Linked DNA regions of Homo sapiens: regions 1 and 2 are each linked to region 3. The links come from fine-mapping of genetic effects on gene expression. A gene starts in region 3. Each other region holds a variant in brackets. All regions are shown on one strand. Distances are between the middles of the regions.

What was found.
Region 1: its variant is fine-mapped to the expression of NHERF1 in whole blood (TOPMed, PIP above 0.99).
Region 2: its variant is fine-mapped to the expression of NHERF1 in whole blood (INTERVAL, PIP 0.96).

What each region holds. Positions count from the first base shown.
Region 1 is chr17:74,561,455-74,572,018 of GRCh38, reverse strand. CD300H (CD300H molecule (gene/pseudogene)) reads left to right here and starts at 4,510. Exons shown (of 4, transcript NM_001405511.1): 1 at 4,510-4,670; 2 at 7,744-8,100; 3 at 9,122-9,185. The coding sequence starts at 7,776. RefSeq lists enhancers at 1,703-2,432, 2,433-3,163. The variant C/T (reference allele first, on the strand shown) is at 4,472.
Region 2 is chr17:74,883,033-74,891,032 of GRCh38, reverse strand. All of the region lies in intron 2 of FADS6 (fatty acid desaturase 6), which reads left to right. Among named protein-coding and RNA genes, the nearest start is that of FADS6, 6.6 kb to the left of the region's middle. The variant G/TG (reference allele first, on the strand shown) is at 4,795.
Region 3 is chr17:74,745,344-74,755,629 of GRCh38, reverse strand. It overlaps NHERF1 (NHERF family PDZ scaffold protein 1), which reads right to left and starts at 7,002. Exons shown (of 6, transcript NM_004252.5): 1 at 6,343-7,002. The coding sequence starts at 6,783. It overlaps RAB37 (RAB37, member RAS oncogene family), which reads right to left. Exons shown (of 9, transcript NM_001006638.3): 9 at 8,295-10,286. The coding sequence ends at 10,219. SLC9A3R1-AS1 (SLC9A3R1 antisense RNA 1) reads left to right here and starts at 5,763. Exons shown (of 3, transcript NR_187307.1): 1 at 5,763-6,567; 2 at 6,703-7,057; 3 at 8,087-10,030. MIR3615 (microRNA 3615) reads right to left here and starts at 7,017; the gene lies at 6,931-7,017. RefSeq lists enhancers at 3,906-4,447, 5,939-6,564, 7,853-8,448 and a silencer at 6,769-7,458.

The DNA of each region.
Region 1 (10,564 bases), 180 kb after region 3:
GATCTCTCTTCTTCTTCTGATAAGGGCACTAATCCCACAATGAAGGCCTGATCCTCATGACCTCATCTAACCCTAATTACCTCCCACAGGCTCATTTCCTAATATCACCACATTACGGGTTAGGGCTTCCACATATGAATTTTTGGGGGAACTCATCAATCCATAGCAGACACCCAGAAGCAGACTTTGTTGTGTTGTTAATTTCCCCTGAAGATACTTCCTGCTATTCTGCAAACAGATATTGAATGAAATAAGACTTGGAGGCCTCTTCCACTTGCCATCTCTCAACCCATCTCACCCCTGCCTGAGTGTTGCAATCCGTACCTTGCATCATGAGAGCCAGAGGTGGGACCCCACCGAAGACCTGGGTTCAAATCCTGACCTCCCCACTTCCCATCATGACAGTTTAGTTCGTCTTTCCAGCTCCAGTCATCTTATTTAAAAGTGACCTGGCAGGGGTGTTGGGATGGGTATGCAGGATTTAAATATACAGAGTGCATGGTACGTAGAAGATCAAAAGAGGAAAGTTTCCCAGAGGGATGCCACCACCTTCAAATGCCTTTGCTCAACTCCTGGGACTGAGCAGGGTGAATATTTTTATTCCTATTTCACAGATGAGGAGACTGATGCTAAGAGACTTTTGCTGATTTGCCTAAAGTCATATAACTAGTGAACAGCAGACCTTAAAATCTGAGCCAGGGCTCCCAGCTTATGGCCAGAACCTTCCTCACTGTGCTACATGGCCCACATCATCAGAGTCAGGTAGAGACCCTCTCTGAGCCGGGCTCCCTATAGCACCCCAGCCCCCATGTTGGGAAGACCCTCCCCACACCCTGCTCCCTAGAGAGCCCTGTATTTGTAACAAGATCCCAAAGAGGCATCCATTGCCCAGAGCCGGTCAGGAGGCTGCCCTCTTGGTGACGTCTCCCTTGAGTGCCAGTGGGGAGGGAAGAAAGTGGGCAGTGGGGTCCACCATCCTTGGGCACTTGCCCATTCTCACCATGATGCACAAGATACTGAGAACTACTCCCCAAATGGATTGACGTCGGGTAGTAGAGGTGAGAGAAGAGAGGCCCAATGCCTTAATACATTCCTGATCCCCTCCCCTGGAAAATATGGAAGGATCGGAGCTCTCACCCTCCAATTCAGCTCACAAGGCTGGGGCCGAGCTCTGTCTGCGTCTCCGGGTGCCCAGATTGGTCCTGCCTTTGTGGAGGCTACAGCCTCACCTGGAAATGGATGCCATGCAACAGGACAATGACAGCACAGGGACATGAGATTAAATACAGAAATAAGCATTGCAGGTAACAGGAACCCCAGAGGGAGGGGTCTGGAAGGCCTGGAGCAGGCAGGGATGCCTTCCAGGAGAGGTGTGGTCTGAGCTCATCCTGGGAGAGTGAGAAGGGAGGATGACGGTTTTCGAGGAAGCAGAAAGACAAGCACAGCCCCGAAAGGCAGAGAGAAATGTGTGGGCTACTCACACTGTCCTACACATCACATGCCCCGAGTTTGCCCTAAGAACGCACCCCTCACTGATGAGATCTTAACTTTCTGGAAGCCCCAAGAGCTGTCCCTCAAGGGCAGCGATGGTGGGGGTCTCAGTGTGGTGCAGTGCCAGGCAGGGCCCCGGGCTCCCCGCCCTCCTGTGCCTCATGGCCAGTGTTCATTATTCTCAGTCCTCCCCTAGCTCTGCCCTCCTGGAGCGGACAGCATTTTCCAGGACAGGTTTCAGAGACAGAAGGACAAGGGCCTGCTGGGGAAGGGACAGCGGCTCCAGATGCTGGCCTTGACATGGAAAAAGCCTGGATGTCCCAGATGTGGGTCATCTCTTCAAGGAATTTGTCATCTCCTGGGGGACTCCAGGGCCCAGAGTACATCTGCTTCAAAGGTGGGTTCCCTGTGGCATTGCCATGTCCTTTGCATTTGGCAAACTGTCTGGTCCTAGCTAAAAAAATGAAACACACACAGGCTGTTTCTAAGCAGACCCTGCAGCCTCTCCCTGCCCCGACCTTGGATGAGCGAGAAGCACGGAGTCGGTGTGCTGCGGGGCACCCTTCCAGCCCGGTTAGGGAACCTCCAGTAGTGGGTTCTGTGGTTGTGGTCAGTGACTTGCCGCCTTGTCCTGTAAGAGGACTGTGCTTCTCCTTCCCACTGACTTCAGGCTTGACCCTATGACGATGAACGGTGAGCAGGAGCCGCATGTGCGCCTTCTGAGCAGAGGCTCAGAGAGCCACCCGGTGCCTTCCCTCTCCTCTAGCGGACTGGGCTCCGCAGCCTGGTGCCCAAGCAATGCTGACTCACCGCTTGCGTATAGACGAGCGAGAAACAAGCTTCTGTGGTTACAGCATGCTGGGATTAGGAGTTTTGCTATGGCAATGTGAGCCAGAAAGAGCTGACTAATACAACCCTGTGCACCCGGTGGTTTGTCCAGACAAGGATGGCGAGAATGTTTTCTGGAAAAGTCTGCAGCTGTGCGTCATCTCCTTCACAGACTCAGATCCCTTCTTCCCAAGAAAGGCACGTTGAGCAGCCCTTGACGCAGAGTCAGGGAGGGCCAGGCAAGCCTTTCCTTAGCGCCCAGAGCTAGGCACAGAGGGCGGGGCTCGCAACCGGCTCTGCAGGCTGCAAGGGGAGACATCTTTATCACTCCCAGCTCCTGCTTCCCCTCCACACACATGCACGCACCAACCCACACACCACACATATACACCACATGTACACACACACACACCCATACACCTCCCCACGCCCACACATGCACACACCACCCCACACACCACACACATACGCCACATGTAGACACACACCACCCACACCCCCCACACATGCACACACATACACACACCACACACATACACCACATGTACACACACACCACCCACACCCTCCACGCCCACACATGCACACACATACATACACTACACACATCACCCCACATACCACACACATACACCACACACCACCCCACATACCACACACGTACACCACACATGGACACGCACACACCACATACACTCCCACACATGCACACATATACACACTACACACACCACCCAACACACCACACACACGTACACACATACACACTACACACATCTCATCTCATACACACCACTCACATCACACACACCACACACACATTACACACACCCTACCCCACATACTGTACATATACACCACATGTACACACATCTCACACCACACACGTGCACACACATACACACTACACACACACCACCTGTGCACACACACCACACACACATGCAAACACACACACTACATGCACCCCACCCCACACATCACACACATACACCACATGTACACACATACACACACTACACACATCCCACCCACACCACACACACCACTCACACCACACACACGACCCCAAACACCACACACATACACACACACTACACACATCTCACACACACCACTCACACCACACATACACACACACTACACACACACCATCCCACACACCATGCACATACATCACATGTACCTACATACACACATACCACACATACTACACACACTACCCACACCACACACACTACACATATATCCCTCATACCACACCCATATACACACATGTGAACACACACAGAAATATGAGGACTCCACATGCAGCAAAAAATGAACAAGCAGGAAACACATTTACTGAAACACCAAGGAGGAGACATTTGATAACAGAATGCCAGGAATTTGGAGTCTCCTAGTTCCAGAAATCTAAGTCCCTGAGTGAGGCCTTCTGAAGCTGTGCTTGCATTTATAAATCCTCCACAGCCATTCTGTGTATATCAGGCACACTTCTGGCCAGGTTCCCCCGAGTTAGCTCTTGATATATTGAAACTCTTATATGTGGTCATCTTGGGCGACAGGAAGAGCCACACAGGTCAAAAGCAAGGCTTATAGATGGTCCACCAAGCTCTGCGTGGTGCCAGGTCTGTGGAAACAGTCAGGCACGTGGCCAAGACAGGGACCTCTGGGGTCTGCTGAGGTCAGAGCAAGAGTGAGGGGTTAAGAGGTCAGAGCCTCTGAGGTTGCACCCAGCCTATCTGTACCACCAAGGATCAGAGATAGACCAGCGGGCATCGTGGGTGTGCCCCTACCCTGTGCAGTCTCGCAGGCCCGGCTCTTAGAAGGGTCCCACGTTTCATGCTTGGCTGTCACCATCTTGAAATTCTTAATAATTTTGGAAACCTAGGTTTGATTTTACACTGGGCTCTGCAAATAGCCAGTCTCATCCATCCAGTGAAGGCTGAGCCATACCCTGGGGCGGCTCATGCTGGCCACAGAAAACTGGCCATTCACAGAGGGGAGGACCTGCCCAGAAAATCCAGATGGCAGCTGGCCCAGTCTCACTGGTCCTGGGCCATGCTGTGATTTGGAGAAGGGCAGGCCTGTCAGCTGTGGGTAATGGGAGGGACATTGTCTTTACTGGGAACAGAAAGAGGAACAGCAAATG[C/T]AAACATGTTTTATTAGGAAGAACTTCAGCAAGTTCTCAAAATTGTTTCACCTGACCACATAGTGCCCCATGGCCCCAGCTTCCTCCATACTCTCACCAGCTCTGAGAACCAAACCCAGAAGAGGCCAGAGAAGGAAACGAGAGATGTGAGAAGGAAAAAGAGCCTCAGACCCTGCTGCCACAAGGGACTTCCATGCTGGTGAGATGACCCAGAGGGCTGGGGCTGCCATGCTGCCTTCAGCTCTGCTCCTTCTCTGTGTCCCAGATGAGCAGGGCAGGTCCTGGGTGCAGGGAGGTCTGCTCTGGCGGGTCAGGGTGAGGCAGGCATGAGAAAAGGCTGGCGAGGGGCAAGAGGAAGAAATGATATCAAGAAAGAGGGAGTGAGGTGTGCATAGAAGCTTCTCAAATCTCCTTATCGGGATAGGGTGGGGATTAAACGGTAAACTGCTTCCCACACAGTAAGCCCTAAGTAGATTTGGCAACTTTAATCATTATTACCGTCATTATTAAGATCAGGAATGCCACCACGATCCATCAGAGAGAAGGGGGAATAGGGGACAGAAAACCAGTACTTACTAGGCTAATCACTGTAATACATATCTTGTTTCCCACTATCTCATTTAATTCTTATTGCAATCCTGATGAAAACAAGAGACCGAAGCTCGCTCTTAGAGGTGCAAATAATTTAGATTAAACAGTTTATAAAAGGCACAGTCAAGGTCCAAACCTAAATACTTTTATTTCCAAGATCATTGCTCCTTCTCTAATTCAATGTCAATGTCTGCTGCGCCTCCTTGTAAAGCTTCACTTACATATCTGGAGGCATATGCTGCATCCCCACGTGGGAACCCTGGGTGTCCCCACAGGTCTGGGCTGGCCCCAGGGCTGCTACTTAATGGGCCCCCAGAAGGGTGAGACAGCTGGGAACCTGTGGTCAGCCCTGGTCCGAGAGTTTCCGTAAATGATGGTGGAGGGAGAAAGTCAGTTTCTTTGCAAGGCTGGGTAGGCGGGAAGCTCCGTAAAAGATGGTGGGGGTGGAGGTGGAGGAGGCTGCCCATGTTGGCTCAGAGTCAGGGTCTGGACTGAATATCCAAGGAGAGGGAGGCTCTGTGGTGGGATTCAGTGTGTGCCCCACAATGTTTTTGCTCCTTGTGGAATTAGCCCCAAATCATTAAGAGAGAAGTTTAAGGACCTGAAAGAGCAGGCTAACAGCGCCCCCAGAGCCTGAGCTGAGAGCAGCAGCGATTTCAGGAGAGGACTGGGTGTGCCCACCCCTTCCTTGCTCCTAAGCCTGTGCCTGGCAGGCAGTTAGCTCCCTGGGAAAGCTCGTGGACCTCAACACTGTGGACATTTGGGGCTGCGTTATTCTGTGTGTTGGGGGCTGTCCTGTGCATTGTAAGATGTTTAGAAGCATCCCTGGCCTCTACCCACCAGATGCCAGCAGCAATTCCCCACCCTAAGTTGGGACAACCAAAAATATCTGTAGTCATTACCAAATGTTCTCCCGCCCGCCCCCCTGCCCCCCCGCCCCCTCCCCGCCCCCCTGCCCCCCAGGTGAGAATCACTGCTTCAGAGAGGCAGACAGCTTTCTAATGCAGAATAGGTCAGTGGGCCACTCGAGCCTGCTTTCTGGGAAATAAAGTGAGAAAACGTGAGATAAGAAAATGAAGATGCAAAAGATAAAGTTTTCCTGTTTTTTTTTTGAGACAGAGTCTCACTCTGTCGCCCAGGCTGGAGTGCAGTGGTGCGATCTCGGCTCACTGCAACCTCCACCTCCTGGGTTCAAGTGATTCTCCTCCCTCAGCCTCCTGAGTAGCTGGATTACAGGCACCCACCACCACGCCCGGCTAATTTTTTGTATTTTCGATAGGGACAGGGTTTCATCGTGTTGGTTAGGCTGGTCTCAAACTCCTGACCTCAGGTGATCCACCTGCCTCGGCCTCCCAAAGTGCTGGGATTATCGGCATGAGCCACCACACCTGGCCAGATTTTTCTTTTAATTCACAATAAAAATATAGCAAAGCCTCTCCATCAGTGGATGGCAATATATTACCTAGATGGATGGGTGGGTAGATGAAAGATGGATGGATGGATAGATAGTAGATAGATAGATAGATAGATAGATAGATAGATAGATAGATAGTTGATAGGTAGACAGATTACATCCACAATTCCTTTTCAGGAGCTTGGTATTTTGCCAAAACCATTTCTCAATAGCCGTTTTGTCCTGAGTTAACCACCTCCCTGTCAAGAGCAGATGAGACAGCAGCTGTTTAGGACTGGTGAGGCCCCCGAGGCAGGAAGCAGAGAGTTGATGGGGCTGGGTCCCAATCATTTGGACCCGGAGCCTGCAGAGTGGGTGGAGGAATGAGAGAGGGGACTCGAAGAGGGAGAGTAATGTCGAAATATTGGAGGGGGCAGAGGACCTGGAGAAGAGGCCCAGGACATGCCAAGGCGGGTGGGTGCTGCAGAGAATTGGGGGTGGGAAGGAAGCTCTGATGGGTGTCCCTGTGGAGCGGAGCCCTGCAGATGTTAGGCAATGGCGAGTGTTGCTGCAGGATTCTGTCCCGGGGGAAAATTCCAGGCGTAAATGTCCTTGAATCACAAGAACAACTCCTTTCTACATGGCCCCTTGATATCCCCATGGGCAGCCCCCATATTCTCTGTGACCCAGACCTGGGAGCAGGAGGCCTCATCTATATGGGCAGGGATGGCAAGTATGAGGCCCACAGATGATTTGGGAAAGGGGCAGAACCAGAAGCCCCAGGCTTCCTCCTTGCCCTCCATACTGGGCTGCTTCTGGTTTTTCCTGGTTCTCAATATTATTTCCTTTCCTATTTCATCCATCCGTCCATCCATCCATCCATCCATCCATCCATCCATCCATCTATCTCTCCAGCCATCCATTTATTCAGAGTGTACTTAGTGGCTTCATTCAATCATTGGTGTTCGATGAGGACAGGTGTTTCTTCTCAGGACTGACACTTCTGGGGGACCCAGAACCTGTCTGAGGCCACCGAGGTCAAGCCTCTCCCCCTGATATTATAAGATGGCTGAGCACACCCAGGCTGGCATGGCCTCTGGAGTCTCAGGATCCCACACCGGGCATCTCCTTGGGTCTCCCCCTGCAAATAGCCCATAGCTCCCTGGTTCCCGACTCCTCCCTCCTCCAGCCTCAGGCAACACTGGGCGTGCAGAGGACCTGACACTCAAGGTTCCACTGGTCCAGACTCTTCCAGGTGAAGACGGGGAAACGGACTTGTGTTTTCCAGGCTGTCTGACTGTGAGTGGCCCCAGCACCGTGATGGGCGCCGTGGGGGAATCCCTGAGTGTTCAGTGTCGGTATGAAGAGAAATACAAGACGTTTAACAAATACTGGTGCAGACAACCATGCTTGCCAATTTGGCATGAAATGGTGGAGACCGGAGGGTCTGAGGGAGTGGTGAGGAGTGACCAAGTGATCATCACGGACCATCCTGGAGACCTCACCTTCACCGTGACCTTGGAGAACCTCACGGCAGACGATGCAGGAAAATACCGATGTGGGATTGCAACAATACTGCAGGAAGATGGCCTGTCTGGTTTCCTGCCCGATCCCTTCTTCCAGGTTCAAGTGCTGGTCTCATCGGGTAAGAGCCTCTTTTCTCAGGCATCTGAGGCCATCTCTGCAGAGCAGCCACAGAAATTTTGGCCCAGGAGAGAAGAACTGGGCCTAGTGTGGTGCATCAGAGACTCAGGACAGAGTATGTTGTGTGAATGTGTGTGGGAAATACATGTGTGTTTGAATGAGTGGGACAGTGTAAGTGTGTTTCAGTGTGTGACTGTGAGTTGTGTGCAAACATGTGAGAGTGAGTGCAGGTGTGAAGGTGTGTGTGAAAGCAGGTGTGTGTGAATGTGTGAGAGAGCAGGTGTGTGTGAGTGTGTGTGAGTGTGTGAGGGAGCAAGTGTGTGTGAGTGTGAGTGTGTGAGAGCAGGTGTGAGTGAGTGTGGGAGTGTGTGTGAGAGCAGGTGTGTGAGTGTGTGAGTGTGTGTGAGAGCAAGTGTGTGAGTGTGTGCAAGAGCTGGTGTGTGGGTGTGTGTGAGAGCAGGTGTGTGTGAGTGTGTGTGAGAGCAGGTGTGTGTGTGAGAGCAGGTGTGTGAGTGTGCATGTGAGAGTGTGTGTGAGAGCAGGCGTGTGTGAGTGAGTGGGCGTGTGAGTGTATTTGTGAAGTTGCGTGAGTGCACATGTGAGAGTGTGTGTGCAGGTGTGAGAGTGTGTGTGAGACAGAGAGTGTGTGCTGGAGGGTAGTGGTGGTGTGTGGATACACTGGCAAGGATGGGGGTTTTGGAACCTAAGCCTAACCTTCGGCATGTTGATTTTCAGCGAGATGGGGGACACCAACATGGGAGAAGGTGGTCATCCTCTGGTCTGGGTTTATAAAATGCCCACCCGGCCCCAGAGCAGGGCATCCATTGGGATGGGGTTGGGGGGATGCTCTGTTACTCCAGTCAGGCTTTGGTCTGCCTATTGGAAGACGATGGTCCTAGAACATCTGTCCAGCTGCCTCCTTGAGCGTCCTCTGCTTTATGAAGTCAGAACCATGCAGGTACCAGGTACTCAGCTGGGAAGAGTCAGGCGTAGGGCACTGAACCTCTGTTCTTTATCCTCAGCCTCCAGTACTGAGAACTCTGTGAAGACACCTGCATCTCCCACCAGGCCCAGCCAATGCCAAGGGTAAAATGCACGTGTCCCAGTGTCTTTTGCCATGTGTGCAGCTTCTTTCCTAGGGTGGGGCTTCCTAGACACAGGTTTCCTTGATTATTCACCCACTCAACATTTATTTATTTATTTATTTTTTGAGACAGAGTCTAGCTCTATCGCCGAGGCTGGACTGCAGTGGCACGATCTCGGCTCACTGCAAACTCCGCCTCCCGGGTTCACGCCATTCTCCTGCCTCAGCCTCCTGAGTAGCTGGGACTACAGGCGCCCGCCACTAGGCCCGGCTAATTTTTTTTTTTGTATTTTTAGTAGAGACGGGGGTTTCACCATGTTAGCCAGGATGGTCTCGATCTCCTGACCTCGTGATCTGCCCGCCTCGGCCTCCCAAAGTGCTGGGATTACAGGTGTGAGCCACCGTGCTCGGCCAACAGGTGTTTATTTGTTATGCGCCAGAAACTGATGGAGATTCTAGAGATGCAACAGTGAACAAAGGGGCAAGATTGTGCTCTTGAGGAAGTTGCAAATAGGTAGATTCAGGCAATGGCCAGATGGATAGATAGATAGACAGACAGACAGGTGGACAGACAGATAGATGGATAGATAGATAGATAGATAGATAGATAGATAGGTGGATAGATAGATAAACAGACAGATGATAGATATGATATGAAAGATGATAGAGATGGCTGGCTGGCTGACTGGAAAGACAGATGGAGATGATAGCTGGCAGAGAGAGATATGTAATAGAGACAGAGAGACGATAGATCAAGGAAATATGTCAACGAATGATAATTACTGTGGAGGAAAATAAAGCAGGTGTAAAGAGATAGGGTGCCAGAGTGTGTGGGAAGCTGGTGGGGCATGATTTGGGCTATCAAGGAAATACAAGATGTTCCACAGAAACAAAGAACAAAGGGACTGTCTTAGTTTGGGTTTCCCCCAAATCAGGTCCTGAGACAAGGACTTAGGAGCAATTTGTTTATTGAGAGGTAATCTCAAGAAGTACATTGAGAGAGCAGAAAGTGAGACCAGGAAAGGGGAAGGGCGGTGAAATGTGCTGTAATGAAGGGGTTATCCCCGTAGTAACTGGAGTCACTGGAGATTAACCCCTCTGGGCACCCTATGAGAGACTGTGTAGAACGTTCCTCAGAACTGGAGACAGAGTCTTCCAGGCAGCAGGCACTCCTGGGGGCATGAATTCTGTGGCCCATCTGGCCTGCTCTGCACAGGAAAATGTGTGCACTCTTGTAGATAACCTCAGGCAGAGATGGGGAGCTTGAGCTGGGAAATCCTTGGTGGGGCCAAGACTGCCTGCAGCTGCCAGGAGCTCAAGTGGGCAAAGGTGATATGGGGCAGGGCGCCAACAGGGTTTGTTACAGGGACTCGTCTTAGAG
Region 2 (8,000 bases), 140 kb before region 3:
TGCTTGGCTGCAAGGCATTTATTGCACAGAGGTAACCTAGTGGTTCTCAAACTTCGGTGTGTAGCAGAATGATCTGGAGGCCCAGGCTTGCTGGAGAAGAGGACTCGGGCCACTGTGTTTTTACCAAGTTCCACAGGTGAATCTGATACCCACCAAAGTGTTACACCCACACCATAGCTATCATGTGTGCCAAATGAATGCAGGAGGCCAAGGACGCCTCCTCTGAGAAGCCTTCCTGGGCTTCTCTACTGGAGCGCTCCACCGGAAACCCAGCACGCTTGAGATACCCAGATAGCCTCAGTGCTGCATTCTGCTTGTGAATGCTGTCTTGTCCCCGTAAGCCCAGTGGCTTCATCTTTGCCTCTTTGACTCTTCAGCTCCTGGCACAGACTTGAGCTCTTGGCAATATTCTTCCATCAATATTTGCTGACGATGACCCTGCAGTTGTCTAGGGAACCAGGTTCAGGCCTGCAAGCCCCCTCGAAGCTGGGGAGGAAAGGCTTGGCTCCCGCTTCATGTCGTGACACCTGCCTGGTGGACTGCAGTGGGCTGAGGAACAGGGCCCGAGTAGTTTATTACTCAAGCCTCCGACTGACCTACGTGGGATGCGTCTTGATTTTTTCATCCCACAGGTGCCCTCCAGCTACCCTCTGGGGAGGGTCCAGTTCCAAGTGTGGGGGAAGGGGCAGACCAGTCTCCCCAGTCTGGCTGACATTGGTGAGGCAAGTGCACTGCTGGAGGAGGGTGCTGGTCTTGTCTGCCACACAGGGTGGCGGCGAGGACAGTGGGGCTCACGCCTGTAATCCCAGCACTTTGGGAGGCCGAGGTGGAAGGATCACTTGAAGTCAGGAGTTCAAGACCAGCCTTTGAAGCCATGGTTGAACTCCCAGCCCCACTGGCTGCCCTGACCTTGAGCAAGTTACTTAATTCAACATCTAAGTGTCACTTTCCTCACCTAATAAACAGGAGAAATAACACGACCTCCCTCATGAGGCCAGCATGTGGATAAAATGAAACAGTGCAGACCTTAATGGAGGGCCTGGTCCTGACACCCTCCACCAGTATGATCTTCACTTTCTTTCTCTGGAGTTAATGTGGTCAGCTGCAAGGAAAGGGTTAGCAGTTGTTTGCTTTGTCTTTTTTTTTTTTTTTTTTTTTTTTTGAGACTGAGTCTCACTCTGTTGCCCAGGCTTCAGTGCAATGATGCAGTCTCGGCTCACTGCAACCTTCACCTCCAGGGTTCAAGTGATTCTCCCGCCTCAGCCTCCCTAATAGCTGGGATTATAGGCACCCGCCACCATGTCCAGCTAATTTTTTTTTTTGTATTTTTGTAGAGACAGGGTTTCACCATGTTGGCCAGGCTGGTCTTGAACTCCTGAGCTCAGGTGAGCCACCCACCTCGGCCTCCCAAAGTGCTGGGATTACAGGCGTGAGCCACTGTACCCGGCCTTTTTTTTTTTTTGGTTTGTTTGTTTGTTTTGTTTTTGTTGTTTTTTTAACTGCAAGTTTGCAAAGCTCAACAGGGCTGTGTATATGTTGGGGCGTTGGGTGCTGTGTCATCTGGGCCTCTGCAGGGTGCAGAGGACACGTTCTTGATGCCTAGGACCTCAGAGGATGCCCCAAGACCCTTCCTGGATTTCTGACTCTCCTCCCATGTCTTGGTGCCTTCTCTCTTAGGATCCTTCCTTGTGGGATATCTGTGCTTTTCCCAAACCTTGACGCTCAGGAGACATCTTCATTGCAGAATAATGCAGCCATAGGCCCTGGGCTCCTTTTGGTGTTTGGCAAATGCTGCAGCCTCAGGCATTAACTGAGTATCATTGGCGGTCCCAGGTGCCCAGCTTTTGCTGGGATTGTCTCAGGGTTTACCAGCTCCAAGCTGGGCCATTGGATCTGGGGGAGGGGCAAACAGGTTGGAGGGGGAGGCTTCCACTCCAGGCTGTTGTTTCTCTCCTAAAGTATCCAACCTCCGAAGACCCATTTGTGTTCCACATAGGAAAGTTCTATCCCTCCTGGTAGCCTAACCCTGACCTTCTCTCCTGCCACTGATAACCTTGGTCTTACCCAGCGAGAGTACCTGCCCAGCCCTGTCCTGGGTCACCATGGGGACTGCCAGGCGTATTCTCAGGGACTGCCAATGAAGGGCACTGTACCATGCTCAGATGGCCACGGGAAGGTTGGGGGCAGTGTGGGATGGGCAGGCCCCCGTAATTTAAGCCCCGAAGCTTGGGAAAGATTAACTCCTGAAAGGACTCTCCTGCATGTCACTCACAATCCAAGATGCTCCCCTGAGTGGGAGGGAACAGGCCCTGCCAGTTCCGAAGCTCTGGTGTCTCCGCTTCAAATCCTCCATGTGAAGTCGGCTTTGTGCTGCAGGCTTGGAGCCACAGCTGCTGGACCGGAGCTCTGCCCTGGGGGAAGGGCACCTTGTAGGAGAATGTCATCGGCTTCCTTCAGGGCTCTTGTGGGGGTGGAAACAGGGCCAGGAACCCCCGCCTAAGTCGTGATCCTGGAACGTTCTCTCCTCACAGGCGTTCAGTGTGACCATTACCCTCCAGGCCGTCTCTCCAACCTTCTCTCTGCCTGTTCCCACGCAAACCTCGAGAGCTGTTGCCTAAGTTCAACTACAACTTCTTATTTTTTTAATTTTTAGTATTTATTTGGAGAGAAAACTCAGATTTGCAGTACAAAATATACTTTTGTAAAAGCTTTTTTATTTTTAAAATAATTATAGATTCACAGGCCTTGCAAAAATAGGACAGAGAGGTCTGGTGTAGCCTTCATCCAATTTCACGCAATAGTTACATTTATCTAAGTGTCATTCAATATCAAAACCAAGGAAACGGACATTGGTACTCTGCGCGCGCGCGCGCGCGCGTGTGTGTGTGTGTGTGTGTGTGTGTGTGGTGTCTCAGCTCCACCTACACCATGCTCCAGTAGATGCTGGGGACATAACTGTGAATAAGACCCCGTTCCACTTCCCCAGGGACTCAGAGTCAAGTGCAAAAAAGACACATACAAATGACATCAAAATAATAAAAAACCCTGGCTGGGCGCAGTGGCTCACGCCTGTAATCCCAGCACTTTGGGAGGCCGAGGAGGGTGGATCACGAGGTCAGGAGATAGAGACCATCCTGGCCAACATGGTGAAACCCCGTCTGTACTAAAATATGAAAAAAGGTAGCCGGGCGTGGTGGCACACGCCTGTAGTCCCAGCTACTCAGGAGGCTGAGGCAGGGGAATTGCTTGAACCCGGGAGGCGGAGGTTGTGGTGAGCTGAGATTGTGCCACTGCACTCCAGCCTGGTGAGAGAGCAAGACTCCATCTTAAAAATAATTAATAATAAATCCTGATCACACTAGCTAAGGCTTACTGGCTGCTTCCTGCATCCTTTTTGTAAATCACCTCATTTCAGAGTCGCACCTCCCTATGGGGGTTAAGCTACTGTTACCCTCACTTTGTAGATGAGAAAACACTGATCTGGGAGTTTAAGCCACTTGTGCAATGCCACGCCAGCTGGTAGGTGACTGGGGCAGGCAGAATGTGATGAGGGCATTGACCAGGGTGGAGTGAAAGCTCTGAGAGCTCAGGGTGGGAAGAGCAGGGCAGGGACATTGGACAGTGTCTGGAGATATTTTTGGCTATCAAGATGGGGGTGTGGGCCAGGCCCAGTGGTTCCCACCACCTTGGGAGGCCAAGGCAGGAGGATCGCTTGAGCCCAGGAGTTTGAGACCAGCCTGGGCAACACAGCGAGAGCCTGTCTCTACAAAACAAAACTAAAATTAGCTGGATGTGGCGGTGTGCACCTGTAGTCCAAGCTACTTGGGAGGCTGGATGCTGAGGCAGGAGGATTGCTTGAGCCTGGGAGTTCAAGCCTTCTGTGAGCCAAGATTTTATCACTATACTCCATATACTCCATACTCCAGCCTGGGCAACAGAGTAAAAGTCTGTCTCAAAAAAAAAAAAAAAAAAAGACTGGAGTGTGTGTGCGTGTGCATGCTACTGGCATCTAGTGTGTAGAGGCCAGGGACATTGCTAAATGTCGTACAGTGCACAGGACAGTCCCTGACACAAAAAGTGCCCGAGTCCCAAATGTGAATCATGCAGGGCTGAGAAACTCCAGGGACGGTTTCCAGGGGAGATGCTATCAGGACAGAGTTGGCCAAACTAAGGAGCAGGAAGGTGGCTTCAGACAGAACAAATGTATGGACAAAGGCTGTGGGAAGCAGTACAGTGCATGAGGGACCCTCAGGAATCAGGGGTCACCAGAATCCAATGGGGACCCTGGAGAGGGGAAAGGGGGCGTATGGCAGGCAGAGGACCTGGAACTTGGTCTTGTGGCCAAAGGTGGTAATCTAAGTTGGTAGTTTTCAAAACTAACTTATTTTTCAAATAGGTAATGTGTTTACATGATTCAGAATTCAAAAAGCATCGGGAGAGGTCTTTGTCCTACCCCTTTCTGCAGATGTCCCATTTCCTCCTGGAAGATGATGGCTGGAGGTTATCAGTCTCTTCTTCTATGTTCTTCTCTAATATTTTCCTCTTTTAGTTTTTTTTTTTTTTTTTTTTTTTTTAGACAGGATTTCACTGTATTGCCCAGGCTGGAGTGCAGTGGCACAATCTCGGCTCACTGCAGCCTCCACCTCGTGGGTTTCAGTGATTCTCTTACCTCAGCCTCCCAAGTAGCTGGGAGTACAGGCGTGCACCACCACGCTCTGCTAATTTTTGTATTTTTAGTAGGGGTTTCCCCATGTTGGCCAGGCTGGTCTTGAACTCTTTTTTTTTTTTTTTTTT[G/TG]AGATGGAATCTCGCTCTGTTGCCCAGGCTGGAGTGCAGTGGCGGGATCTCCGCTCACTGCAAGCTCCACCTCCCAGGTTCATGACATTCTCCTGCCTCAGCCTCCCAAGTAGCTGGGACTACAGGCGCCCGCCACCACGCCCAGCTAATTTTTTGTATTTTTAGTAGAAACGGGGTTTCACTGTGTTAGCCAGGATGGTCTCGATCTCCTGATCTCGTGATCCGCCCGCCTCGGCCTCCCAAAGTGCTGAGATTACAGGCGTGAGCCACTGCGCCTGGCTGGTCTTGAACTCTTGACCTCAAGTGATCTGCCTGCCTTGGCCACCTAAAGTGCTGGGATTACAGGCATAAGCTACCACGCCTGGCCCCTCATTTAGTTTTTAAACAAACAGTACACTACAGGATTAAGACCATAATTATGAAATTATGATGCAGTTTTGGGTTTTAACTGTGTCACTCTACTGGATTTGAGGCAGACAAGGCAGAAGATGGGACGAAGGTGTTGGCATGGGCAGGCTGAGAGATGGTAAGGACAGACGGGCAGGGATGGGGTTCAAGGAGGAGGGTGTAGGTGGTGGTTGTCTGGGTGGTATCTGTGGGGAGAAGGAAGAGGTGCAGGAGTGGTGGGCAGCAGGAATGACCAGGATGAGAAAGAGGGATTGAGGGTCGTCAGAGGGGCAGCGTTGGTCTGGCAGGAGGGCTTCCGGGCTGGATCTGCGTAGCTTCCGTTCCTCTCTCCAGACTCTTGCTGGCTCCCACAGCATGAGCAGCCCCTTCACATCTGGCTTCAGAATGCTGGGGGCTTCTGGGGCTCCATGGACCTCAGTAGTAGGTTTTCTAGGTAAAATACAAAAAGTCCAGTGATATGATTTTGATGTTTGTCCCACCTAAATCTCAGGATGAAATGTAATATTTATTTATTTATTTTTTTTTTTTGTGGTTTTCTTAAAAAAATGCCTTTGAGTTGCAGATCAGGTGAGTTGGTTTTGGAAGTACTGGTAGTTCTGTTGGTGTGAGAGAGACTTGTCTACAGGCAGATAAACCCAAGTTTGCCAACAAAGGCAGTAACCCCAGTGGCCAGCTGCTGCTGCTACTGCACAGTGAGGAGGAGGTGGGGCCTGGTGGGAGGTGACTGGATCATGGAGGGGTTTCTCATGAATGGTTTGGCAGTATCCCCTTGGTGTTGTCTTGGTGAGAGTGACGGTGAGTTCTCAAAAGATCTGGTCATTTAGGCTGGGCGCAGTGGCTCACGCTGTATTCCCAGCATTTTGGGAGGCCGAGGCGGGTGGATAACTTGAGTTCAGGAGTTCGAGACCAGTCTGGCCAACGTGGCGAAACTCCGTCTCTACTAAAAATATAAAAAGTTAGCTGGGTGTGGTGGCGTGTGACTATAATCCCAGCTACTCAGGAGGCTGAGGCAGGAGAATCGCTTGAACCCGGGAGGTGGAGGTTGCAGTGAGCCGAGATCGCACCATTGCACTCCAGCCTGGGCAAGAGAGCAAGACTCGGAAAAAAAAAGAAAAAGGATCTGGTCATTGAAAAGTGTGTGGCACCCCTATCCCCGTCTCGCTGCTCCTGCTTTCATCATGTCACTGCCTGCTCCCTCTTCCCCTTCCCTGTGGACTTCTGCCACGGTTGTCACGATTGTGATCTGCCATGATTGCAAGCGTCCTGAGGCCTCCCTACCAAGCTTCCTGTGCAGCCTGCAGAACGCTGAGCCCGTGAAACCTCTATTCTTTACAAACTACCCAGCCTCAGGTATTTCTTTAGCAATGCAAGAATGGCCTAACACACATTGATGAATTTGAATTTCAGACAACCAATATTTTTGTATAAGTATATCCCAAATATTCCACGTATTTTTTGTTTATCTGAAATTCAGAATTAAGAGGGCATCCTGTATTTTCATTTGCTACACCTGTCAGTCTTGCTCAGGGAGCGTACAAGTCTCCAGGTGCAAGTCCTCAGGGAACTCTTCGGGCTGGCTCTGGGGCAGGATCTGTGTGAATGCAGCCATGTTTTAGACACCTTTGGGATGAGAGAGGGACCCTGGTGAGGGCCACAGCAAGAATAGTCCTCGAGAGCACCTTATCCTGATGGGAGTGGGTCCCGTACAGTCGGCAATGAGCCCATCAAATGGGGCTGATGGCATTCTCTTCCTTTTCCCAGGGACAAGGCCCTGGGAACCCCACAGGCCTAGCATGGTGCTGGGCACCACTGGGGGTCCGACAATGCTTATGTGAACAAACAACTGCATGAAAGAACAAATGGGGCTGGGCGCAGTGGCTCACACCTGTGTTCCTAGCACTTTGGGAGGCCGAGGTGGGTGGATCACATGAAGCCAGGAGTTCGAGACTAGCCTGGCCAACATGGTGAAACCCTGTCTCTACTAAAAATACAAAAATTAGCCAGGCATGGTGGTGGGCATCTGTAATCCCAGCTACTCGGGAGGCTGGGGCAGGAGAACCCAGGAGGCGGAGGTTGCAATGAACCAAGAACCCATGAGGCAGAGGTTCACCACTGCACTCAAGCCTGGGCAACAGAGCGAGACTCCATCTCAAAACAGAATAAAAATAAAATAAATAATCTTTTTCAGCAGGACCATCCATTTTCCAACTAACTCAGCAGCATGTGGTCATCCGCCACCGCCCTCAGGAAGTGTGCGAGTGAAGGGCGCTGAGCCTGGTGCAGTGAGCCCTCTGCGGGGGTGTTCCGCTGTCCTTTCCTGGCTTGCAGTGACTGGTATTGGGAAACTTTTCACGTCGTTCCAGAAACAGGCAGCATCTTCAATAAAATTAGCCACATCTTCTGTCCTAGATAAAATATCGGAAGAGGCTTACATCTGCATACCATTTGCATGTATCTGCTTAAGAAACACCTTAGCGTGGCTTTTGCATTCCAGACTGACTACTCTCCTAGGAGTCAGAGCGCACGTGCTGCTGCTCAGAGCGGCTTCCGAGAATCCCACTGGGGATCCATACTGCAGAAGAGTCACCTCTAGGGAGAAGCTCTTGGCCCCCACCAGGGCACCGCCCCCACCTTGTGGACTGGTCAGGGGATGGTGTCCCTGCTCTCTCAGACCACTCCTGTAGCCCCTCCTGGCTGCTGCTCCGGGCTGAGAGTGCTCAGTGTTATTAACGAGCAGATGCTTCTAAGAGAAACACACACAAAATCATTGCATTGGATGCCGGGGTCATCACCTGCAG
Region 3 (10,286 bases):
TCTCGGAGAATTCAGAGCTCTCAGCACCCAGCAGTGAGTGGGACTTGAACCTGGCCAGCATTCTCTGTGTGTTCCCACACCACCCCGAGGTGACCTGGACCTCAGGGAATCTGTAACTCTTGTCCTTTTCTAGGGCCTAGGGACCTAAACATTGCCTAGGAGTCTGGGGACATGGTGAGTTGTCCTACCATGAGGGGAAGGCTTCGGTCAACAGTGAAGACCACCCTTGAGGGGGGCTCTCTGTGCAGGTTCTGGGGAGTGAGGGCGGGGGTAGATACTTGGTTACCAGATTCCAGATTGACCTATCACATCACGTGAGAAGGGATGGGGACAGGAGCCTGCCACTTATGGGCTGAGGCACTGCAAGGATGCCCTGCTAGGGACAGGAGCACCTGGAAGCCCTGGATCCTTACAGGAAGCCAGTTCAAGCAGCCTGAATTTATACCACTGTGATGGTCCAGCTGTGGCTCAGAATATGATGGGCAGAAACACCTGGCAGAGTCAGGCTTCAAGCACAGCCTACTCATGTGGCCAAATGGCTGTGCAGGCACTAGAGTCAGAGGGTTGGGTTCCAAGACACACCCCTGCGCTGTGTGGGAGGAGTCGCTAGCTCAGAGTCCTGGGACCCGCCATGGCCACCTTAACTGATCAAGCCTCAGCCTCCATAGGCAGAGAATGGGGCCAATATCTGCCTCACTGGTGGTCATGTGGATTAAATGAGACAGGCAAGGTTAGTACTTAGCACAGTGCTAGACACAAATAGTAGCTATCATGTATTGAACACTTACTGTCAACCTACAAAATAGAGAAAACAATAGCTAATTTGTCTGGGGGACAATGAAATGCATATTGGCTGGGTGTGGTGGCTCATGCCTATAATCCCAGCACTTTGGGAGACCGAGGCAGGTGGATTACCTGAGGTCAGGAGTTTGAAACCAGCCTGGCCAATGTGGTGAAACCCCATCTCTACTAAAAATACAAAAATTAGCAGGGTGTTGTGACAGGTGCCACCCAGCCTGGCCACCGTGGTGAAACTCCGTCTCTACTAAAAATACAAAAATTAGCAGGGTGTGGTGGCGGGTGTTTGTAATCCTAGCTACATGGAAGGCTGAGGCAGGACAATTGCTTGAACTTGAGAGACGGAGGTTGCAGTGAGCCGAGATCACACCACTGCACTCCAGCCTGGGCAACAGAGCAAGACTGTCTCAGGAAAAAAAAAAAAAAAAAAAAGAAAGAAAGAAAGAAAGAAAGAAAGAAATGCATGTCAACATCTTTATGTCATAGGTAGAGTGCCTAAAGGCACTGTACAAACCTGTTTCCTTCCAGGTAGGGCCACTCTATCTTAGAGCAACGAAAACAGAGGAACATTTGTTATTGGGGTCTAGAGCTCTGGTTTCTCCCTGTAAAGAGTCCTGCAGCACCAACAAGACCTCGGCTGAGCTTCTTCTTTCTTTTTTTTTTATTTTGGAGATGAGTCTCACTCTGCTGCTCGGGCTGGAGTGCAGTGGCGCGATCTCGGCTCACTGAAACCTCCACCTCCCAGGTTCAAGCCATTCTCCTGCCTCAGACTCCCGAGTAGCTGGGATTACAGGCACCTGCCACCACGCCTCGCTAATTTTTGTATTTTTAGTAGAGATGGGTTTTTACCATGTTGGCCAGGCTGGTCTTGAACTCCTGACCTCAACTCCTGACCTCAACTGATCCACCCGCCTCGGCCTCCCAAAGTGCTGGGATTACAGGCGTGAGCCACCGTGCCTGGCCTGAGTTTCTTATTAATTTCCCACCCCACTTTCCCAGGGACCATTGAGATGGGACATCTGGGAAAGGGGAGAAGGACCCCATCTAGACATATGGAGTTCCTTGAGAAGGAAGCCCCCATTCACCCCCCTCCCCCTGTTTTTTTGGTAGAGACGAGGTCTCACTATGTTGCCCAGGCTGGTCTCAAACTCCTGGGCTTAAGCGATCCTCCCGCCTCAGCCTCCCGAAGTGATGGGATTACAGGCACAAGTCACTGCGCCCGGCCAGGAAGCCCCCATCTATCTCCAAGAGAATCATCTCCAGAATTACTGAGTTAACAGGAGCTTGAAGGTAAGAACCAGGGGCTACACTGTTTTGCCAGCAAAGAAAGAGATCCCAACACACAAACAATCACATACCCTGTCCATTTCAAATCCAAACACCCAGCAGCTCAAGCTCTGTTCTGCCCTACCAGAGCTCCAACTTGGTTGGTGTAAAATGGCCCGCCCGCCCTGGGAAAGAGGTTGATGGCCCTCCAGCTAACTGTGCCCCACCACCCACCTTGCTCCCTGGGGTGCCTGCACTCTGACTCTGGGATCAGGGTCAGGGCTGGCAGGAAACACCCCAAACTAGCACTTTCATTTACAAACCTGTCATGCCACCAAATCTTCCCAATAACCCTGCAGGCAGTGCCTTTCACAGAGGTGGAGGCTGAGGGTTGCAGGGAAAAATGAACTCCCAGGATCCCAGAACCAGCACACGGCAGAGCTGGGATTCAAACACTGATCTGGCTGACCCCAAAGCCTGGACTTTTGGCTTTCTAGTTTTCAAATAGAAGCTGCTAGCAGGCAAGAAAGAAGAGTGGGTAGGTTCTATCTGGAATTCCAATCTCTGGGCGGGGCGGGATGAGCTGAATGAGGACAAAGGTCCCTGACTGTTGTTATATATTCATTCATTAATTCAAAAACTGTTTTTGAGAGCCTCCCTACCATGTGCCAAGGACAGCGCTGGGGATAGAAACACAAATAGGCCACAGTTGATGCCCTTGGGCTTACCACGTAGTGGAGAAAAAGGTCACAAACAGATGATTAAAATATTGTGTGTTTAGAGCGATAAAAGATGTAAGGACAAAGAGGAGGCGGAGGCCGAGGCTGGCAGATCACCTCAGCCCAGGAGTTCAAGACCAGCCTGGGCAACACGGTGAAACTCCATCTCTACAAAGAATTTAAAAATTAGCTGGGAATAGTGGTGCATGCCTGTAGTCCCAGCTACTAGGGAGAATGAGGTGGGAGGATCGATTGAGCCCTGGAGGTCGAGGCTGCAGCGAGGCGAGGTTGCGACACCACTCCAGCCTGGGTGGAATCTGTCTCAAAAAAAACAAAAACAAAAACAAAAACAAAAAAAGTGAAGGAAAGGAAATGCTAACTCTGCCTACTGGATTAAGGACAGGCTCCCTGGGAGGGGACAGAAGTGTCAGGGTGTGAAGGCTTAGAGGCTAGAGGGGAATTCGGACCCTGGGTGTGGTTTTGGGGGTAGGGAGGCAGTGGTGAGAACAGGCTGCCAGATGGAGAAGGGCCATGGAACAGCATATAACTCTTAAAAAAAAAAAAGAAAAAATTTAATAGAGACAGGGTCTTGTCATGTTGCCTAGGCTGGTCTCAAACTCCTGGGCTCAGGCGATCCTCCCACTTTGGCCTCCCAAAGTGCTGGGATTACAGGTGTGAGCCACCACACCTGGCCACAACGTATCATTCTTAACCCACAGTGACCATCGATCAGGCACTGACTGTGTGCCAGGCTTGGCCACAGTGGCATTTGCCCAACTAGGCAGGCTGACCCAGCGCTAGCTGCCCCATGATAGGTGTGCAATGATCACTATGAAATATGTATTCATTCCAATACCAACTGCAAAGGCTGGCTGAGCCTGGACTCAGTGCCAGGCACTGAGCTACGTGCTTTACACACAGCCTCATGCAATTCCGAGGTAGCTGCCATAACCCCCAACTTACACAAGAGGAAATGGAGGCTTACAGAGGTGAGGTAACTTGGCTTCGCACAGCCTGGCTAGTACAGCTGAGCTGGCTCGGCTCTGCCCGGCCGGCACTCTGAACCCAGACTCAAGGGTTTAGGCCTCATCCTGTGACTGGTGGTGAATGGGGGGAGGAGGGCTTTAAGCAGGGGAACAGCAGGGCGGGTCTTGCTGCTCCTCTCTCCCCACGGGGCAGGCGGGGAAGGCCATCCACAAAGCAAAGCCGGTGGGCAGAGCTGGAGAGCCACTTCCACCTCCTTAGGCCTAGACTCCCCAGCGGGGATGGCCAGTGTTACAGGCACCCCTCAGCCTCTGCCCTGAGTGGTTCTGGACACAGCTGGTCTTCCCAGCCAGAGGCCACCCAGCCAACCACTCTCTGCGCCACACTTTTCCACTGATATCATCACTTAGTAAGTGGAGGGCTAATGAAGACAAGGGAACAGCCCCACCTTGCACACAAATTCAGACTAAAACGAATTGGCAAACCTCCATTTGATGCTTTATGTAGGAAACGGGTGTGTTTTAGAAAAACGAACTCTTACAATGTCTGTTAACATTTTTTCTAATAACCACATGGGTGTCTGTATGCTCAACACACAGGATTGAGAGGAGAGGATTTTCTGCTAGAAGGACTCAATGGTGTTGACTAGGAGTCAGTTTAGAGGAGCTGGGATTCAAACGCCAGGCATGAAGGAGTGCAGTTCAGCATTTAGTAAGGGGCTCAAGTGCTTCACGTCATTTCTATAATTCTAGAGAAGGCAGGCATCACATCGCCCAATGCCTCCATCTCACAGATGGGAGAACCAGAACTCAGAAGTCCTGGGACTTGGCTGGTGATGGTGTCCCCAGGATTTGCTGGTGGCTCTCCTCTCATCTCCTGGCCTAACAAAGTACACACAAATGTAGGTGTCCCTCCAAAACATGCAGGAATCTGAGTCTGTGCTCACCCAGGAAGCTCAAAGCTGCTGCCTTTGCGCACGTGTGCTATGCCAGGCCTCCACGTTCGCCTCCCAGGCCCTCTGGCACCCAGCAGCATAACCAAAAGGGCAAAGGGAGGAGCTGAACGAGACTGCAACTTGTGGGGGGTGGGGGTGGGTGGGTATTTGTGTGGGTGCCAAAGTCCAAAAAAAAAAAAAAAAAAGAATGTCAAATCGATCGATGGACTCAGCACAAAGTTCACACTGGATTTCTGCCTGGGACTGGAGATCATCGGCCCCAACTCCCTGGCATCAACCTCCTTGCTCCGGGTGCTCAGATCCCTTCCCCCTCCCCTTGCCAATGCCAGCTTGGCAGGGGCAGGAAGTGGGAGCCTGGTGGCCCTGGCATTCCCAGCACCCAGCTCTGGCTGGACAGGGCTTCTGGTGACCTCACTTCCACCAAACCAGTTGATCCTCTAGGGCTTTGCCTTCTACCTTAATGCCGAACTGTGCCCTTTCTCTGTCCAGGAGGCTCCTCGTAGCCCCACGGACACTCCCATCAGACACTGCCACCAGGGAGAGCTGGTGGTGCAAGCTGAAGGGGTCCTGGGAGGCTCACGCCCTGCCCTACACAATGCACCACTCCACTCTCTGGGGACAGGAGGCTCAGCACAACTCCTATTTTGCCAGCTGCCCCTCTTGCAGCTGATCCAAACTGGGATCCCATGGGCAAACACCAAACATGGGCAAAAAGCAACCGGCCTGCTGGCTGTGTGGGCACCAGAGTGACCATGGCAAGGCCAGGGCAAGACCACCGGCTCACCGTGAGCTCCGCTGGCGCACACAGGGCCGTGAGCCCCAGGAGCTCTCTCTCCTCCCCATGGCCATCTTTTTCTTCTTCCAAGGTCTTTCCCCTTCCCTCCCAGATACAGTTCTAGGCGCTTACTCTTCACATTCCTGAGAATCGTAAATCCTCTGAGGTGGCAGAACCACCACTCCGAGATGCCTTGGCTCCTCCTCCCTGCCAGGCAACCCCCACACCGCCCTGAGATGGTGGGGCTTCCTCTCCCTTAGAAGTCACACAGGACTCCGGGAGGATGAAGTCCAGCAGGACTGAAGTTCAGGACACACACCGGCGGGCTGCGGAGAGGGCCTCCTCGCGCCGGGGCTCCACACAGGAGGAGTAATGCTATTCCTCTAGCTTTTGAAGTAGGAGTGGCGGGCGAAGCTGGCACCTCTGGGGCGGAGAGCCCTTTCTCCCCGGCCCATCTGCGGACTGGGGTGAACGAGGAGAGGGCACCAGGGAAGGAGCAGGATTGGGGGATTCCGAGGAACGGGAGCAGACACCCACAGACCCGAGGGAAGGGGGCTGGGTTCCCCTGCGCCGCCCTCCCAAAGGCCAGGGAACAAGAGGTGCAGGCGGCAAAGGCGCTCAAGCTCCCAGCACAGCCTGGGAAGGAGAGGAGGTCGCGGGACGCAGCCCCAGGCCTGCCTAGGATGTGTCAGGGCGCCTGGTCGGCGGGCGGAAGCGGTCTCCCCCTCGCAGCTCGAGTTTCAGAAAAACGACGGCGGGCGCGGGGCTGGACGGCCGGGGCACCTGGGTCTCTCCGGATCCTCCTCCCACTCCATGCCAGCCTGCGCGGCTTGGGCCCCGCTTACCTGCTCCGGGTGGCTCTTGTCGGCCTCGCGAGGCTCATTTTCGTTGCCAGCCCCCTGCACCTCGGCGGCGGCCGGCGGCTCGGCCTGCCCCGGCGCTTCCTGGGCGCGCAGCAGCTCCTCTCGGACCTGGACGCCGAGCTTCTGCAGCTGCTCGTCCGTCTCGGGGTCGACCACCAGCAGGCGCACGGCGTTGAGTGCGGCGCGGATGCGGCTCACCACCTGCTGGTGGGTCTCCTTCTCCACGTTTTCGCCGTTCACCTCCACCAGCCGGTCCCCCGCCAGCAGCCCCGCCTTCTCGGCCGGCGAGCCGGGCTCCACCAGCCGGATGTACTGGCCCAACTTGCCCTTCTCCCCGTGCAGGTGGAAGCCGTAGCCGTTCGGACCCTTCTCCAGGCAGCAGAGCCGGGGCAGGGGCGCCCCGGCCGCTGCGTCCGCGCTCATCTCGCCCTGCGACGGGTCAGCGGCGCGACTTGGGGTTCCGATGGGGACGGGACGGGACGGCCCAGCCCTTCTTCCCGTCCAGCGAACCGGGAGCGCAGCAGAGAAGCCCTGAGCCGCCGGACGGGCCAAGCAAGCAGGTGTCCCAGGAACCGTCGGCCGCCGCGAGCCGCGAGGAGCCGAGAGAGGACCACAGACCAATCCCCGCCCCGCGCGGCGTCTGAGCGTCCCAGAGTCCGCCCCGGCTCCTTACCCCGGGGGCGGGGCCGCGCTGAGGGTGGGGACCTCCGCGGGCCAATAGGGGGCTGCAGGCCTGGGCGCTCCGGCCGGGTGAACGGCGCCGGCCATTGGGAACGCGCGGGGCGGGGCCTGCGCTCGGCGCGGCGCCCCGCGGCGGGCGAAGACTAGCGCTCAGGAAGTGGAAGTGTTTGTTACCGAGCGGCCGGCGCTGGGGTGGCAGGGGCGGGGCTCGCCGAATTCCCGGTTCTGGGCGGGTGGGCCCGCCGGCTCCGGCCTGGTTTCCCCTACCTGTGGCGGGGAGTGAGGAAAGCCGGCCCTCGGGTAAAGGACCCTAACTTTTTTTTTTTTTTTTGAGACGGAGTCTCGCTCTGTCGCCCAGGCTGGACTGCCGTGGCGCGATCTCGGATCACTGCAACCTCCGCCTCCCGGGTTCAAGCGATTCCCCTGCCTCAGCCTCCCGAGCAGCTGGGGTTACAGGCGCGCACCACCACGCCCCGCTAATTTTTGTATTTTTAGTAGAGACGAAATTTCGCCATGTTGGCCAGGATGGTTTCAAACTCCTGACCTCAGGTGATCCGCCCTGGGATTACAGACGTGAGCCACCGCACCTGGCCAACGTTTTAACAGCCTTTAGCCAAAGCCTGGGTGCAGCTCCAGTTGAGAGGGAGCGGCTGTTGCCGGGGCAACTGCTCCCGCTCGGGGCAGCGAGGGCCGGTCAGTCTCGAGAATTAAGACGGAGGGCCTCCTCGGACCCTACAGAGTTGTTTGAATAACATTTTTCCGTTTGTGGGAACCCTAACCCTAATCCACTTTGTGCTGTCCCAGGACTCGCATAGAGGAGTGCAGGTTCTGATCCCTGCTGGGAAGGTGAGGGCTCCGCGGAGAGCCTGGGACCTCGAGGGGCAGCCCGCTGAAGACAGGCCATCTAGGGCAATAGCGTGGGCTTTGGCAGCAGCGTTTGGCTAGGGAGGTGGGGTGGGGAGAGGCAGGACAGACTCAGGTAATCAACCTCTGGGTACACGCCACAGGGAAAGGAGCCTTGGTTTTTTTTTTTTTTTTCCAACAGAAAAATGATTAGGACTGTAAAGCCTTCTAGCTCCCTCTTGCCAAAGAGAGGCTGGTCACAGAGGCGGGAGACAGTCTGTTGAGCGGGGAGCTGACCATCTGAGGACAGACACTGAGGAAGGAGGATGGAATGATTTTGGCAGTGAATGACAATTCCTTCAACAAGACCCCCCCCCCCCACTCACTTCAAAGAAACAGTGGACAGGATGTGCTTTCCAAAATACTGCAGTTTAATTCTGAAAAACTCAAATGCAAGAGGCCCAGAGCTGTCTATGGGATTGGATCTCCTGCAACCTGCCTTGGGCCCCAGAAGAGACTGGCAATGTCAGCCTCCTCCCTGCTCTGCCTGAGGGAGGCCACGGAGAACTTCCTTATCGGGCCCAAACTGGAGCCGCTGACTGCTCAGAGCAAGATTTCTGCCTTGAAAGCAAATGCAGTAGCCTCAGAAATGTGCAGCGCATACTTCTTCCTCCCCCTCTCCCCCTCCAGGCCGGCAGAGCTGCAGTAAAGATGCCTGCAGGTCATGACCTCATGTTTCCTGTCCACTTCCCATGGCAGGGATCGGAGCTTTGGGAGATATGTGACCAAGGAGGACACATGAACTTGCTACCCCTCTCTCTACCCCAGACATACCCACATGACTTTGTTTTACTCATATTGCATTGGTTTAACTCGGAAATGGGTGACCTCCCACCACCTAACCTGACTCAGTAGGAGGGGAGGTAAAGCAGTTTAGGCCCTGGTATCTGTTTGAGAAGTTAAAGGAAAGGGCATGGGTGGTCAGGGAGGAGGCAGAGCTTGGGGTCAAAGGGATACATGTCAGGGGAGGTTTGCTTAATCTTGTCTCCCACCAGCTCCAGGAGCCAGGGATTTCTCTTTTTTTTCACAACACATTCCAAACCTAGGAAAGGGATTTCTCCTTATCTGGCTCTTAACCCAGGAGGGCTAAACACTTCAGCTGCTTGAAGAAATCGCCTGTGGAGCTGCATGCCTGCCAAAGGATTGGGATAAGACACATCTAGCCTGGGCATGGTGCCTTCTGCGTGTAATCCCAGTACTTTGGGAGGCCGAGGCCGGCAGGTTGCTTGAGCTCAGGAATTCAAGACCAGCCTGGGCAACATGGCGAAACCCTGTGTCTACAAAAAATACAAAAATTAGCCAGGTGTGATGGTACACACCTATAGTCCCAGCTACTTCGGCGGCTGAGGTGGGAGGATCGCTTGAGCCCCAGGGAGTGGAGGTTGTAGTGAGCGGAGATTGCACTACTGCACCTCAGCCTGGGCGACAGAACGAGACTCCATTTCAAAAAAATAAAAACAAAACTCTTTTCCTAGTTCTGACCTGAGGTTTTTAGGTGCACAGGCAGGAAGGTAGCTAAGCCAGGGATTCAGGGGGGGGAGGGGCTCCCCCAGGATCTGAAGTCCAGAGAACAGGAGCCTGGAACCAATATTTCCAGGTGCCCCAATGTGCTTGTGTGCTGGAGAAAAGGGGCATGCCTCCAGGGGGGTGTTAGTAAGGCCAGAGATAGCCAGCTAGACCCTACTCTCTGCCCCTTGTCCTCCCCCTCCCATCTCCATATCTCTTATCTTCCCTGAGGCTTTGGTCTTCCTCACAGCACAAGGGCCCACTTATTTGGGAGATGGGGCGAAGATAAGCTCCTGGAGAGCGGGAGACAGTGAAGGCTGGGGTCACCTGAGCCTCTGTCCAGCTGAACTGAGGGTGCGATGGAGTCATTACCTGCCCTCACCCCCAAAGTGCATCTGTGTCCCCTGGGGCTGAGCTGGAGCAACACCACCTTTGTTATGCTTAGGAGGGAGGGCCGGCCCCCCAAGTCCTAGAAAGCAAAAGGGCCACTAGCTCCCAGCCTCGGTTTTTTGGGGATCCAGGCGCCTTTTTTGGTATTAAATTATGTACTATTAAAATAAAAGCTAAGTGTTTTACCCTCCCTGTGGATGCGGGGAGACCGCAGGAACTCAAGTAGGAGTTGGAGTATAGCTCCCTGCTAGGAAGCGGCTGTGCAGTGAGTCCTCCATCTTTCTCCCCATTGGCTCAGCCTCTTGGAATAAGCCAGGCCTGGGAGGGGGAAGGCTGCATCCTGTGTGCCTCCAGAGCCTCCTCTCTGCCCCCTGGGATTCACATGAAGGAGCAGCAGCTGGAGCGCTTCTTCTGGGACTCTACATAGTCTCGGATCTGGAAGCTGG